Linked DNA regions of Homo sapiens. The protein of the gene in region 2 interacts with the protein of the main gene of each other region in a pairwise test. Each region holds a gene or a part of one and is shown on either strand. Other genes may lie near its edges.

The links.
Region 1: the proteins of FNDC3B (region 2) and L3MBTL3 interact in binary tests that used the Homo sapiens proteins (3 or more experiments, as listed by UniProt).
Region 3: the proteins of FNDC3B (region 2) and RUSC1 interact in binary tests that used the Homo sapiens proteins (3 or more experiments, as listed by UniProt).
Region 4: the proteins of FNDC3B (region 2) and TOX4 interact in binary tests that used the Homo sapiens proteins (3 or more experiments, as listed by UniProt).

The regions. Positions count from the first base shown.
Region 1 is NC_000006.12:130,025,081-130,028,580, reverse strand, and holds part of L3MBTL3 (lethal(3)malignant brain tumor-like protein 3), read right to left. Parts: intron 1-3,500. UniProt on the Homo sapiens protein: Is a negative regulator of Notch target genes expression, required for RBPJ-mediated transcriptional repression. It recruits KDM1A to Notch-responsive elements and promotes KDM1A-mediated H3K4me demethylation.
Region 2 is NC_000003.12:172,343,578-172,347,077, forward strand, and holds part of FNDC3B (fibronectin type III domain-containing protein 3B), read left to right. Parts: intron 1-508; coding exon 509-681; intron 682-2,749; coding exon 2,750-2,863; intron 2,864-3,500. UniProt on the Homo sapiens protein: May be a positive regulator of adipogenesis.
Region 3 is NC_000001.11:155,327,394-155,330,893, reverse strand, and holds part of RUSC1 (AP-4 complex accessory subunit RUSC1), read right to left. Parts: intron 2,745-3,500; coding exon 2,619-2,744; intron 492-2,618; coding exon 323-491; 3' UTR 1-322. UniProt on the Homo sapiens protein: Associates with the adapter-like complex 4 (AP-4) and may therefore play a role in vesicular trafficking of proteins at the trans-Golgi network. Signaling adapter which plays a role in neuronal differentiation.
Region 4 is NC_000014.9:21,480,195-21,483,694, forward strand, and holds part of TOX4 (TOX high mobility group box family member 4), read left to right. Parts: intron 1-3,500. UniProt on the Homo sapiens protein: Transcription factor that modulates cell fate reprogramming from the somatic state to the pluripotent and neuronal fate. In liver, controls the expression of hormone-regulated gluconeogenic genes such as G6PC1 and PCK1.

The DNA of each region.
Region 1 (3,500 bases), on a different chromosome or scaffold from region 2:
ATCTGTCCTAAGGACCTAAGTTCATAGATTTTAGGCAGGAAAAACTCTAGATCATTATTTCAATGTGAGAACTGAAATCTTAGCAGCATCAAGAACAAATCCTTGAGAAGTTGGGTCTTCTGTTCTCATCCATCCCTGCAGAGGAGACACCTGAGTGTGAACTAATCCATGCTGCCTTTAAACATGAAATCAGTCATTACAGCGGTTCCATCTTATTGATATTTTCTCAAAAACACTGTCCCTTTATCAGCTAGTCATATTTTAATGTGAATGATCCTATTTATAATGTTGCAATGGTCTCTCTGATTTGCTACCTTGTCTGCCATGGAGATCATGTGCAAAGAAAGGGTAGTCACCAAAGGTAACCTTTACAAAATCTCAACTTCCTGCCCTTCTGTGTTACTGTAAGAAGGATGAATTATTTGAGATTCTGTGGCCTAACCTACTTACTTCCTCTAAAGAAGGAACAGAAAATGAAAAATGCCTTTCAAGAAAAAAAAAAAAAAAGGTACACAGAAAGTGAAATCACAAACTGACATTAATGGGCCTATGGCATATTTAATAGACTCTCATTAAATGCTTTTATTTTAAATTCATGTTCAACGTGCAGACTATACCTCAATTTGAGTCAGACATATTTTTTAAAGTGCTAGCATATCATCAACATACTATACTAGAAGGGTAATAATAGAAATTTTACACCCATTAGAGGGATTCAAGGGCCATAAAAAGAACAAGAACCTGACACAGATATTTCTATGCATATGCTAAATATGCATGAACTAAAATTTTAAAAGAAAAACTAAAAGTACTCTCTTGTTCTTTTTTATTTTACTTCATAATTTTTAATGCTAAAAGTAGTATCTTTTTTCTTATTTTGCTTCATATTTTTATAGAACATAAAGCTAAGATTTACACTTGATTTCTCTTTTGCATGTAATGAATTAGATTTGGCTAGATTTTTCTTTCACAGAAGTCTACAGGCTTATCTTGATAACCATTTGTAGCCAACCTCCTTATCAATAGACTGAACAGCTAAGCCTCAAGTCCACCCAATTAGACCACAAACCAATACGGTGAATTACTAAGATCATTTAACAACCAGACCAGATTGACCACCTAGGAATTTCAATTCACTATTCAGGGTTCAACAGTGTAATGGATGGAGAAAAATAATCAACTGATTTTGGTACCTAAGCAATCATACCCAAAATGTTCTAGTAACTAAATTAGCTTAATTCCACAAAATTTATGTAATATAAAGCTATGGTCCAGCCTTTAAAAGGTCTGGTACATAGTATACGCTCAAAAAATGTTTTAAATAGAACTTCAACAAAGGAGAAACAGCCCATTACCTTGTAATCAATGCCTACAATGGCATCCTTCTAAGTCAAACTGAAGAACTGCCTGATCCACCGTAACTCATATAACAGAGAGATATAATTCCCATTGCAATACAAAACCACCCGATGAGTCAAAATAGACTCTTCACCTCATTTTGCAAACATGGGACATACTCTTTTGGTTACAGTGTATAACACCAGTAATTATAGCACTCTTGCTCAGGATCTTAGTCATATTCCCTGTTTTCATCTTTTACTTTGATTCTAGGACACATTTCTACCACACCACCCCTCCATTTTCTCCCCACCATTGTCTCTCTTAATTTTCTTCTTTCCTTTTACAATCCTGGCTTTAGAGTAAATTTCATAACCTACTGAGCCTGCCTTGGTAGATGCAGGTCCCATTCTTTCATTGATTGATGCTTTATATATATATTTTTCATAACTAGTCCTACTACCTTATTGGGTCTCTTCCTATAGAGAACAAATGAAATCTTTATATAAGTAAGCCCAGTGATTCCCAAGCCTATTCTGAGTAATGTTTTATCAACAGTTTGTGATCATTTCAAGGCCATGGGCTAGACCAAGGTGTTCTTTTCAGAATAATTCAATAATTGGTCTTTTCTCAATTCTTGGTTTTAAAAAGAAAAAAAAAAGAAGAAAGTAAAGCCAGTTTTTCTTCCCATCTATTTTTCTTATACCTGTTCATTATTGCTCATCTTAGTAAACCAATGTAAAAGAGCACATACCTTAATCTGGAAATGTGTTGTTTTTAAAATATTCTATGTGTTACTATTTTGAAAATCAAAAACCTAAAGACACATCAATCATATGCCAGTATCATTTTCCCTGATTCCACCCCTTTCAAACTGCATGATATGAACAAGTTACTAAGTAACTCTGAGCACCAGTTTGCTCTAAAAGACAAAAAATAATACCCAGTGCTCAAGGTTAGTGAAAGTATGAGAGGTAATAGTCAGTGCCTAGAACAGTACCTGGGCATACAGAAAGCACTCAAAGTATTTTTTGGATGAATAAATAAATATAAAGCATCTAGCTTAATGCTTGATCTTCAGAAGGCACTCGATATACAATTGCACTTAACATTGTATATCAACACTTCATAGGGTTTTTAAAAGAGCAACCCCATCTGCCGGGTCCTATCACAGGAACACATTTACCACCACATCCAGAGATGCCATCACAGTGTCTACAGCATTTATCTACCATTCACCCACACTTAACCATGGCTTTGTTTTGTTAATTGCCATCGTATGTGTATGGGTTATCTCCCCAACTAGATTAGGAATATACTGAGCCCAAGGATTGATGCTCGATGTCTTTGTAGCCCCAACACATACATTCATTCAACCCTGCTGTAATTGTTGATTTTGTGAAGCAGTTCACAACAGTAATTTAGACAAAATAGAGGTTCAATAAGTATCTGTTGGTGGAACACAAAACAATGATTTACAGTATATATGGGAGAAAGAATAATAATGCAGAAGGCATTTTACTGTTACATATAATATACATATCATTCTTATAATCACCATCCAACTAATCAATTCCAAGTCTACTCAGAAAGAAACTACAGTTTATGAGGAAAGTTCCCTCATCCAAGATCACCCAACTTAACTTTACTCAAGTTCCTCTCAAAGATCCTTGTTCATTCCTCCAAACTATCTTGTCTCCCAAATGGGAATTTTCTAAAGGTCTTTCCCAATTTTACTTCATAAATCAAGCTTAGTTATATATCAAGGATACCCTTTCTTGGTGCTTCTTTTCATCCACCCACTGCATAGCTGCCACAGTCAATACAAATCCGTTCATCATTTCCCACTATTGACTTACATCCACAACCACCAATGAAATAATTTAATACAGTAAAGAGATAATCTGAGAATATTCCTGTTAGATAATGAAGCCCTTTAGAAAATATATCTTCCATGGATCCGCTGAACTTCAAGATGTCACATATAAATGTGCACCCATATGAACATATAAATAGTTCTCTCTAAAGACACTATCTTTACCTATACTATAAGCATTCCCAAATCCTTGTGAGGAACAAATCCCTCAATAGTGGCAAGTGGTAACAGTGGAAGATAGTGTAGATCTTCACCAGAAAGTTACCTTGTGAACACACTGGTCAAA
Region 2 (3,500 bases):
TTGATTTAAGCTGTATTAGCGTTTCCTGTTGTGTCCAGCAGTTTACAACATGTATAATTACAAGTACAAATGTACAGAACTCTCTAGCAGACTATTTTTTCCTACCACTTATGTCTAAAGTATAATAAATTGTGCCAATTTGGGGTCCTGTATTTTGATTTAGCATGACCTTTGGTTTCCAATTAAAGAGATTTTTCTTCCCTCTTTTTCTTCCATTTACCTAGCATTAGAATATGAAGAAATATATCTAATGTTCCTATAATTTTGGGATTATTTTATCAATGTAATTAAATAAACTTCAGTGGACCCGCTTTGGAGAGTATGGATAACATCATTCAGAAACTTTTATTTTTATATCTCTTTTTTGGTGGGCATGGATTCTTTTGTAAGGGAGATACTGAGGCCGGCCACCTATGTGATATTTTGCTCAACTTGTGTGAAATCTGGTGCACTTTGGTCAACTGGAAGCACAAAGTGTTCTAAGATGAAAAAAATTCTTCATTCCCAGATGTTCCTGCATCGGAAAGTGGCTGTGAGGTCTCAGAGTACAGCGTGGAGATGACGGAGCCCGAAGACGTAGCCTCGGAAGTGTACCATGGCCCAGAGCTGGAGTGCACCGTCGGCAACCTGCTTCCTGGAACCGTGTATCGCTTCCGGGTGAGGGCTCTGAATGATGGAGGGGTGAGTATAAGCCCATACACCATAACCAGAATCAGAATGCATAATCAGAACCCAAAGTGCTAGCACTTCTGTCTCTAGCCTCCTGAAATTTTTGACAGTCTTGATGCAACCTTGACAACCATTAATGCAGTGTCTGTAAATCTTAATTCTGAGTTGATATTGTTGTGATTTCATATAGACCCAGCATTAGAAGTTTTCTGTTTCTTTTGTCCTCATATCATTCTATGAAGACAGCACTCAAGGTTAATAAGGATATCACCCTGTAGATATTTTCGACAGTTTTTGGAAAATTTCCTATTCTATTGACTTTATCAGTTCAGGGAAATTAGGATTAGATAATAGTTCTAATAAAAGTTTTATACTGTCTTGTCTAAATGAACCAGCAACATCTTAGGTCAGTTTTTACAACTAGAGAAGGGTAGTGGCCAGGGACACCAGCTTGTTTTTGTTTTGTTTCACGTGAAAACTACAGGACTCTCTCCTTCTATTGCTCCATTTGGAGTTGTCAAGTTGAGCTATCAAAAATTGAGAATATATATGTCTATGTTATATCCATAAAGGTTGTTGTCCTTTTTTTCTTTGAAATTGCCAAATGATGTGGATTTAGGGGGAGATGAATAATGAGCAGTGGGAGTCCCAGTAACTGTGAGGCTTTTGGGTGGGCTCAGAGATTGATGAAGCATAAAAGGGCAGAAGCGTGTGGGTAAAGCCAGCTAAATGCCCCGTCCAAAGTGCCAGTGGTTTGTGTAGATGGGCTCCATGCAAATAAATAGAATTAATTAATTGATGATTTTTTAAAAAAATAAGACAGCCCAACTTGCAGTGACTTTTTGTTTTAAGTGAAAGCAAGTTTATTAAGAAAGTAAAGGAATAAAAGAAGGGCTATTCCTTAGGCAGAGTGCCCAAAACTGGATTTCTCCTAATTCTCCAATAGAAAAGAATTTCAGACACAACAATGATACTTAAGTGAAAACAAAAAAGTCTGAACATTAACGCCTATGTACCTGAACTTATAATCATGTAAGCGAAAAGAAGATGGATAGTGATGAGCACACTGTTGTGTCTACCCCATTCTCTCATCAACTTTTCAGTTACTATCTGCCACAACAAAGATAAATGTGCAACTGGGCTGGTGTGAGCTGTACTTTTCTCAGCCCTTTCACTGATTTATCCTATAAAGAAACTATCTTCAGCTTGGGTTTATTCCTGTTGTATTAGAAATTAACCATATATATCGCTGTAGTCACCTTCTGAGGTCCATTTCAGAGAGCTTCCCCAACTCCCCAGCATCTTTGCATGTTATGTTGAGAGGTGGTTTTTTGTTTCCCCCCTCCCCGCCGTCTTTTTTCTCTCATTTTGACAAGGACAGTCATATATTTTGTTAGCCTGGCAAGTTTTTACTCTGCTCCAAACCTTTGAAGTATCAAATATGCCACCATTAAAATGGGTGGTTCAGGTGGCTGTGACTCTCTCAAAGTGTGGTAAGTCTCTAGCAATTCCTGGCTCTGAGCAGTGTGGTCACTGATGGTAACATCAGGATTGCCGTGGATACCCTTGAATAGGTGAGGTGATGGGAACACACTGAGAAAACATTACAGAAGCATTTATTTTCAAAATGGAAAATACCGGTAACTAGAAGAAATACCTAGAATTTGATCACCAACAATTCCAAGTATATTTTTATTCATTAAAAATTAAACTGCAGTGGGCATCTGACTTAGTTTTCTTGGATGTCCTCTGAGAAATATGAAAGCAGATTGCCCTGTTTTGTCAAAAATCAGCATATTTTTATTTCATGTCCCAAGAAAGGGAAAATATTTTGTCAACCAACTAATTATTTTACAATTAAAAAAATGACAGACATCTACTACTCAGGGACTGTATATAGGAGAAAAACTTACACACATTGAATTGAAAGTGAAAATCATTGGGTAATATTTGTTAATTAGTTGTGTTGATGATGATGTTAGCCTAGCTTTTATTTGGTTATAAGCTTTTGTATGCACACACATTCACAAACACATACACGCATATATACATACGTGTGTGTGCGTGTGTTTTCTTTCAGTATGGTCCCTATTCTGATGTCTCAGAAATTACCACTGCTGCAGGGCCTCCTGGACAATGCAAAGCACCTTGTATTTCTTGTACACCTGATGGATGTGTCTTAGTGGGTTGGGAGGTAAGTCAGGCATATTCTGCATCAACTTCTGTTTCTTCTACTTTACTCCCAAATACAAATACCAATTATAAGGAAGCTGCAAATCCAAAATGCACATATAGATGATTTTTTTTTTTTTTTTGCTCTGTGTACTATAGTAATCACCCTTGGCACTTGCCACTTGCTTATATTATTTAGGGTTGTGGAAGTTTTACTGTAGTCAAAACTGAGAGGAAATGGTTTCTCATGCCTTTCTTTTTGTAAAAAATTTTATTTTATTTTACTTATTTTATTTTTTTGTGTGACAGAGTTTCAATCTTGTCACCCAGGCTGGAGGGCAGTGGCACAATCTCGGCTCACTGCAACCTCTGCCTCCCTGGTTCAAGTGATTCTCCTGCCTCAGCCTCCTGAGTAGCTGGGATTACAGGTGCCCACCACCATGCCTGGCTAGTTTTTGTACTTTTAGTAGAGATAGGGTTTCACTGTGTTGGCCAGGCTGGTCTCGAACTCCTTATCTTAGGCAATCCACCCACCTCAGCCTCCCAAAGTGCTGGGATTACAGGCATGAGCCGCCGCACCTGGCCCTATTTTATTTTTAAATTTCTAAATCTCAAAAAAAATTTTGTGGGTACATAGTAGGTATATATATTTGTGATCG
Region 3 (3,500 bases), on a different chromosome or scaffold from region 2:
GTCCACTTATGGATGAAGAAGGAGGTCTAGATTTCCATTTTGCAGATAGATAGGAAGGAAGACATTCCCTTATATAGACGGGAAAAAGGAAAGGGATTACCTGGAGGGCAATTCCTTTTTTATATATTTGGAAGAAGAGCAGATTTCACCTTACAGGTGGGTATAGGAGGGAAGAAGGAAAGTTTATTTTAAATATTAGCAGAAACAGACGTGGGAAGAAACGTCATTTTGCAGAGGGAAAATGCTTCTGGGATGGTGTTCACTGGCCATTCCATTCCCAGGTGACAGGAAGGAGACACATACGCAGGAAAGGGTCCCAGGGCTACAGAACAAGGGAGGTATACCCCACAGGCACCAGACCCTCCATGCCATCCCGCCCACAGCGGAGCCAGTCCTCATCCACTGTGGTGATGACACGCAGCACTTCCCCACGCCGGAAGCTCAACTGGTCAGGTCTTGCAGCAGTGTGATCACAGAGAGCCCGCACTGCCCTGAGGGGAGCCAGAGGAAGATACTGGGATGAGGTGAGGTGGGGCTGCCCAGCCGTCCCCAGGCGTCACCTCTAGAGTGCCCTTGTTGGTTTGGCTCAGTGGACATTGACTGGGCTCTGGAAGGACTTGAGAACCATTCATCAACTTGGTGATTCTATCTGGGGCCCCAGCCTTCTCCTGAGTGGCAAACCCACTCCAGCTGCTTATTTGACACTATTTGCACTTCTCAATGGTGCTTCAAATTCAACACAGGCAAATGAAATGACTCACCCTCAAAACCAGTTCCTCCTCGTGTCGCCTATAGTGGTAAACAGCACCACTTTCTCCCCACACTTGCCCCTGGTAAAAACCTGGGCATCTCACTCCATACATCCAATCCATCACCAAAACCTGTTTGGTGTTTGGATCTCCTACTACTCCATCTACTTTTTTTTTTTTTTTTTTTTTTTCTTGAGACAGAGTCAGTCTCTGTTGTCCAGGCTGGAGTGCAGTGGTGTGATCTCAACAGCCTCCACCTCCCAGGTTCAAGCAATTCTCCTGCCTCAGCCTCCCGAGTAGCTGGGACTACAAGTGCCCACCACCACCACGCCTGGCTAATTTTTGTATTTTTAGTAGAGACGGGGTTTCACCATGTTGACCAGGCTGGTCTTGAATTCCTGACTTCAGGTGATCCACCACGCCCGGCCGCCAAATGCTTTTATAAAATGTTTAGGCCAGGCGTGGTGGCTCACGCCTGTAATCCCAGCACTTTGGGAGGCTGAGGTGGGTGGATCACAAGGTCAAGAGATCGAGACCATCCTGGCCAACATGGTGAAACCCCATCTCTATTAAAAATATAAAAAATTAGCTGGGCATGGTGGCAGGCGCCTGTAGTCCCAGCTACTCAGGAGGCTGAGGCAGGAGAATCACTTGAACCCAGGAGGCGGAGGTTGCAGTGAGCCGAGATCATGCCATTGCACTCCAGCCTGGGCGACAGAGCAAGACACTGTCTCAAAAAAAAAAAAAAAAAAGTTTAGTAGCCAGGTGTAGTGGCTCCCACCTGTAATCCCAGCACTTTGGGAGGCCAAGGTAGGCAGATTCCTTGAGGCCAGGAGTTCAAGACCAGCCTGGCCAACATGGCAAAACCCCATCTCCACTAAAATTACAAAAATTAGCCAGGCATGGTGGCAGGTGCCTGTAATCCCAGCTACTCTGGAGGCTGAGGCAGGAGAATCACTTGAGCCCAGGAGGCGTGGTTGCAGTGAGCCGAAATCATGCCACTACACTCCAGCCTGGGCGAGAGTGAGACTCTGTCTCAAAAAAAAAATTATGTTTAGTCTCTATAACCATAAAAAAGGTATTGCATCATATCCTTTTTATAGAAAGAATCCTGGCCGGGTGCAGTAGCTATGCCTGTAATCCCAATACTTTGGGAGGCTGAGGTGGGTGGATCACCTGAGGTCAGGAGTTCTAGACCAGCCTGGGCAACACGGTGAAACCCCGTTTCTACTAAAAATACAAAAATTGGCTGGGCACAGTGGCTCACGCCTATAATTCCAGCACTTTGGGAGGCCAAGGCGGGCGGATCACGAGGTCAGGAGATCAAGACCATCCCGGCGAACATGGTGAAACCCCGGTCTCTACTAAAAATACAAAAATTAGCTGGGCGTGGCGGCATGTGCCTGTAATCCCAGCTACTCAGAAGGCTTAGCAGGAGAATTGCTTGAACCTGGGAGGCGGAGATTGCAGTGAGCCGAGATCATGCCACTGTACTTCAGCTTGGCGACAGAGCTAGACTCCATCTCAAAAAAAAAAAAATTCCAAAACTTAAACGGGCATGGTGGTGGGCACCTGTAGTCCCAGCTACTCAGTAGGCTGAGACAGGAGAACCCAGGAAGGGGAGGTTGCAGTGAGCCGAGATTGTGCCCCTGCACTCCAGCCTGAGCGACAGAGCAAGACTCTTGTCTCTTAAAAAAAAAAAAAAATCCAAGGCTCAAATGAGTGACACATCGATAATAAATAGAAAAGCTGCAATGCACACTAAGCACGGTCTTATTTTAAAGCCCAGGGTTTTTTACACTACCTCCCATCCATGCTGTGATAGCATACATGGTTACACACTAGTGCATTCTCCCCAATCCTCCTTACCTATGGGTTTGCACCATCCTGGGTGCTGAGGCCTCAAGCTCCTGAGGAGAAGGCATCTCGGGAGGTGCCCCCCGCTTCACAAGAGCCAACACACTCACTGTCGGGGGCAGCCAGCTAGATGGTCTCCTAAAAGAAGGGACATAGGGTCACAGCTCAACCCACTTCCAGAAAACCCAAGAACCCTGGGGTTTGGAGGGAGGGAGAGGCTAAGGGGCCTAATTGTGGTTCAAAAGAGGTCAGGGGTTAGTCACTGCTGAGGGCAGAGTGTTCATTATTGGACACAGGCACTTTTAGGCTGATGAGGGAGATGACAACAAAAGTCCACAACACCACAAATCACAAGGAACCTATGGACCCAGCAGGGTCTAGACAGGCTCAGAATGAAATGGCCACTAGAGAGTATCTCAAGCCATTAAAGAGCCACCAGTTGTTGAAGCCTGGAGCAGGGGTTGGCATTTTGTTTGTTTGTTTGGAGAGGAGACAGGGTCTCGCTCTGTCGCCCAGGCTGGAATGCAGCAGTGTGATTACAGCTCACTGCAGCCTTGACCTCCTAGGCTCAAGCAGTCCTCCCACCTCAGCCTCCTAGAGTAGCTGGGACTACCACCACGTGTGTGCCACCATGCCCAGCTAATTTTTGTATTTTTCTGTAGAGACAGGGTTTCACCATGTTGCCCAGGCTGTTTTTCATTTTTCTAAACGACCAGATAGTAAATACAGTTGACCCTTAAACAAAGCAGGTTTGAAATGCACAAGTTCACCTATATGCAGGTTTTTTTCAACCGAACAAAAAATACTGTATTCTCAGGATGTAATACCACATATACTGAGGGCTGTCTTTTCCTATACATCAACTGTAGGATTTGAGTATGTCAGATTTTAGTG
Region 4 (3,500 bases), on a different chromosome or scaffold from region 2:
AAGTAAATTTAAAGTATTAACAAGTAATATTATAATAAAAAAGAAAGAAACTTTCCAGGTTTGAATCTGTCCTTTGTTTTTGTTTTTGTGACTTAAGAAATCTTATTTTATTTTGCCAAGAAACTGATAGCTAAGTTTTAGGCTCAATTTCAGTAGCTTCCTTTGCCTAAGGCTCCTGTCATTGTTAACAGTTCTCCATTTTCTCATTACAACTTCTACACCTTCCCTTTCCCTTGGTAGCGGTGGTAATGGTTGTTTATAACTTTTATTTTAATGGGGTTATGGTTTTACTGTGAGCCATTCCAAATATATCTTAGAAGTAGGTAAAGGTAATATTAAAAAAAAGTTTTTTTTTACAAGAGAGGAAATTTTTAGACTTTGCCGACCCTCCCCCAAAAAAGTAGTTGCCCATAAAAAGTTCTAACCATTAAAAAAAATGAATAATTGGACTCCACTGTAATTAGGAACTTCCTTTCATCAAAAAACATGATTAACAAATAGGCATTCCACAGACTGGGAGAAGATATTTACAATACATATATCTAACTCATATTCAGAATATATCAAGTACTTCTGCAGAGTAAAAGAAAGAATCCAGTTTAAAAGGAAGCAAAGGCCAGGCGTGGTGGCTCATGCCTGTAATCCCAGCACTTTGGGAGGCTGAGGCGAGTGGATCACCTGAGGTCGGGAGTTCAAGACCAGCCTGAGCAACATGGAGAAACCCCTTCTCTACTAAAAATACAAAATTAGCCGGGTGTGGCAGCGCATGCCTGTAATCCCAGCTACTCAGGAGGCAGAGGCAGGAGAATCGCTTGAACCTGGGAGGTGGAAGTTGTGGTGAGCTGAGATTGTACCATTGCACTCCAGCCTGGGCAACAAGAGAGAAACTCCGTCTCAAAAAAATAAAATAAAAGGAGGCAAAAGATTTGAACAGTCACTTCACAAAAGAAGACGTCCAAATTGCCAGTGAGAGTTGGCAAGGATGTGGATAACTTTTTTTTTGAGACAGAGTCTTGCTCTGTCACCCAGGCTGGAGTGCAGTGGTGCGGTCTCGACTCACTGCAACCTCCACCTCTCACGTTCAAGCAACTCTCGTGCATCAACCTTCTGAGTAGCTGGGATTACAGGCATGTGCCACCACACCTGGCTAATTTTTGTATTTTTGGTAGAGACCGGTTTTCACCATGTTGGCCAAGTTGGTCTCAAACTCCTGACCTCAAGTGATCCACCTGCCTCAACCTCCCAAAGTGCTGGGATTATAGCTGTGAGCCACCTTGCCCAGTGGATGTGGATAACTTAATTATTGCTAGTGAGAGTGTAAGTTAATTGAGCCACTGGAAAACTAGCAGTACCTACTAAAGATAAACATGCCCCCCTAACCTATGACCAGGTAAATTCCACTCCATGATATGTACACAACAGAAATGATTGCATATGTTCACCAAAAACATGTTCACAACAACTTTATTCTTACTAGCTTAACCCTGAAAACAACTCATGTCTATCAACAGAAAAAAATGGTGTATTTGTGAAAAGGAATACTACACAGATATAAAAAATTAAATTATAAATGCAATTGGATAATCTAAACAATATTTTGTTGAGTAGAAAAAGACAGACATAAAAGAGAAGACACTATATTCGTTCATATTTTTTAATGAGGGTCAAGAATAGGCAAAACTGAACTATCAAAATAGTGATACCAGTTGTGAAGGGAAGGAAGTATTCACTGGAAAGGGGCACAAGGAAATGTTCTGCATCTTTGATCTGGATAGTGATAACTTGGATGTTTGCATATGTAAAAAATCCATTAAGCTATACACTTAAAATTTATGTACCTTACATAAGTTGTATATCAATGAAATAAGAAATAGTAATAATTTCAAAAGAGTAGCAGTCCAGAGAGAGCATTGCCTGAGGCGGAAAGTTCTATGATCTGAAGGCAATTTAATCTTTCTGTTTCTCTTTTTCAGGTTGGCTCTAATATAGTGGTATTATGCTTAGAGCACATTGGGGAAATAATTAGGCATAAAGGTACCCATCCTTCAGTAGGAAAAGTAACTAACATTAGAACCAGTTCATTATTTCTGGCTAAATAGGTAAAATTTTCACTACTACATCAGTTTTTAAGAGCAGTTATTTAAATGACCCATAGTACCAGCGTATTGTTGAATAAATAGGTGTTGGATTAAAATAAATTTCTCTAAAGTGAATGATCTATATAATAAGCTAAAGAAATAATAGATTGTATGTTTTGGGATCAGAGAATGAAAAAAGGGAGGGAAATGGTATTTTTGATTTTTTGGTTCTCTTGATATTTAAGCATCTTTGCTTATAAACTGTAATTCCCAAACCAGCCCCTCCTTCAAAAAGGCCCAGGAATTGAACAAAGGAGGAAAGGAAAGCTAAGTTAGAAGGTAACTGCATATCATGTTCCTGTTTTCTCTTTCTGTGTCCAAACCACTTCTTTTTAATATTTGCTTCAGTTTTAGTTTTGTTTTATATTTAACAGTCTAGAGTGTGATCTGGTTATGTAATCCGCTAAAATAAAGTAAGTTTAGGTATTCATTTTTGGATTTTACCCATAATTTTACAGATCATTTGTAGTGAAAAAGATTTTAGTGAATCTCTACTTTTACTATAGCATGTGGTTTACCCTATCCTTTTTTTTTAACCTTCTGTATTCTTGATAATTGTAGTTATCTTACTATTCATACTTAAAGGAAGAAATAAAACAGAACCCAGAAAACCACCATGAAAGCCATAGGTACTGAATAACAAAGCTTTTACACATCCCAAGGGGTGGTGTATAGAAAGAATGCCTTGTCGATCCTACATAATGGAATCTCAACATGTCTAATTTTTTTATCATTTCCCAGTTCATTTTATGTAGCCATGTCTAATTTTTTAGTGTACAAGGAGAACATTCCAGATGGTTTATGAGGGGTAGTCACTTGTGGAACACTGGTCCCTTGTTTTGGATATGAATTTTTATCCTTTTGGGGTTCTCATTAACAAATAGTATCATTTTTATATCCTGACAAAGTTGCTGTTTTGTTGTGGTAAGCAGAAAAGGATAGGCATCTTTGCTTTGCCAAAGCAATCTGTATCTTGAAAATTTTGGAAACTACTATTTTACTATTAGTCTAGTACAGTAAATGTTTCCCTTGATCCTTCTTCCTGTTCCTATAACTTTTTTTTTTTTTTTGGTGTGAGAATTTGGTAAAAATCTTTGTACCTTCTACCTTAAAAATGCTCACGTAAACCTAAACTGAAATATCAGAAAGAGTCATGGACTGGAAGTTAAGAACTTCCACACAATAACAAAAATTATGGGCCAGACACAGTGGCTCACACTTGTAATCCTAGAACTTTGGGAGGCCAAGGTGGGAAGATCACTTGAGCCCAAGAGTTCAAGGCTGCAGTGAGTGGTGATGGAGCCATGCACTCAGCCTGGGCGACAGGGTAAGACCCTGTCTCAGAATTAAAAAAAACAACAA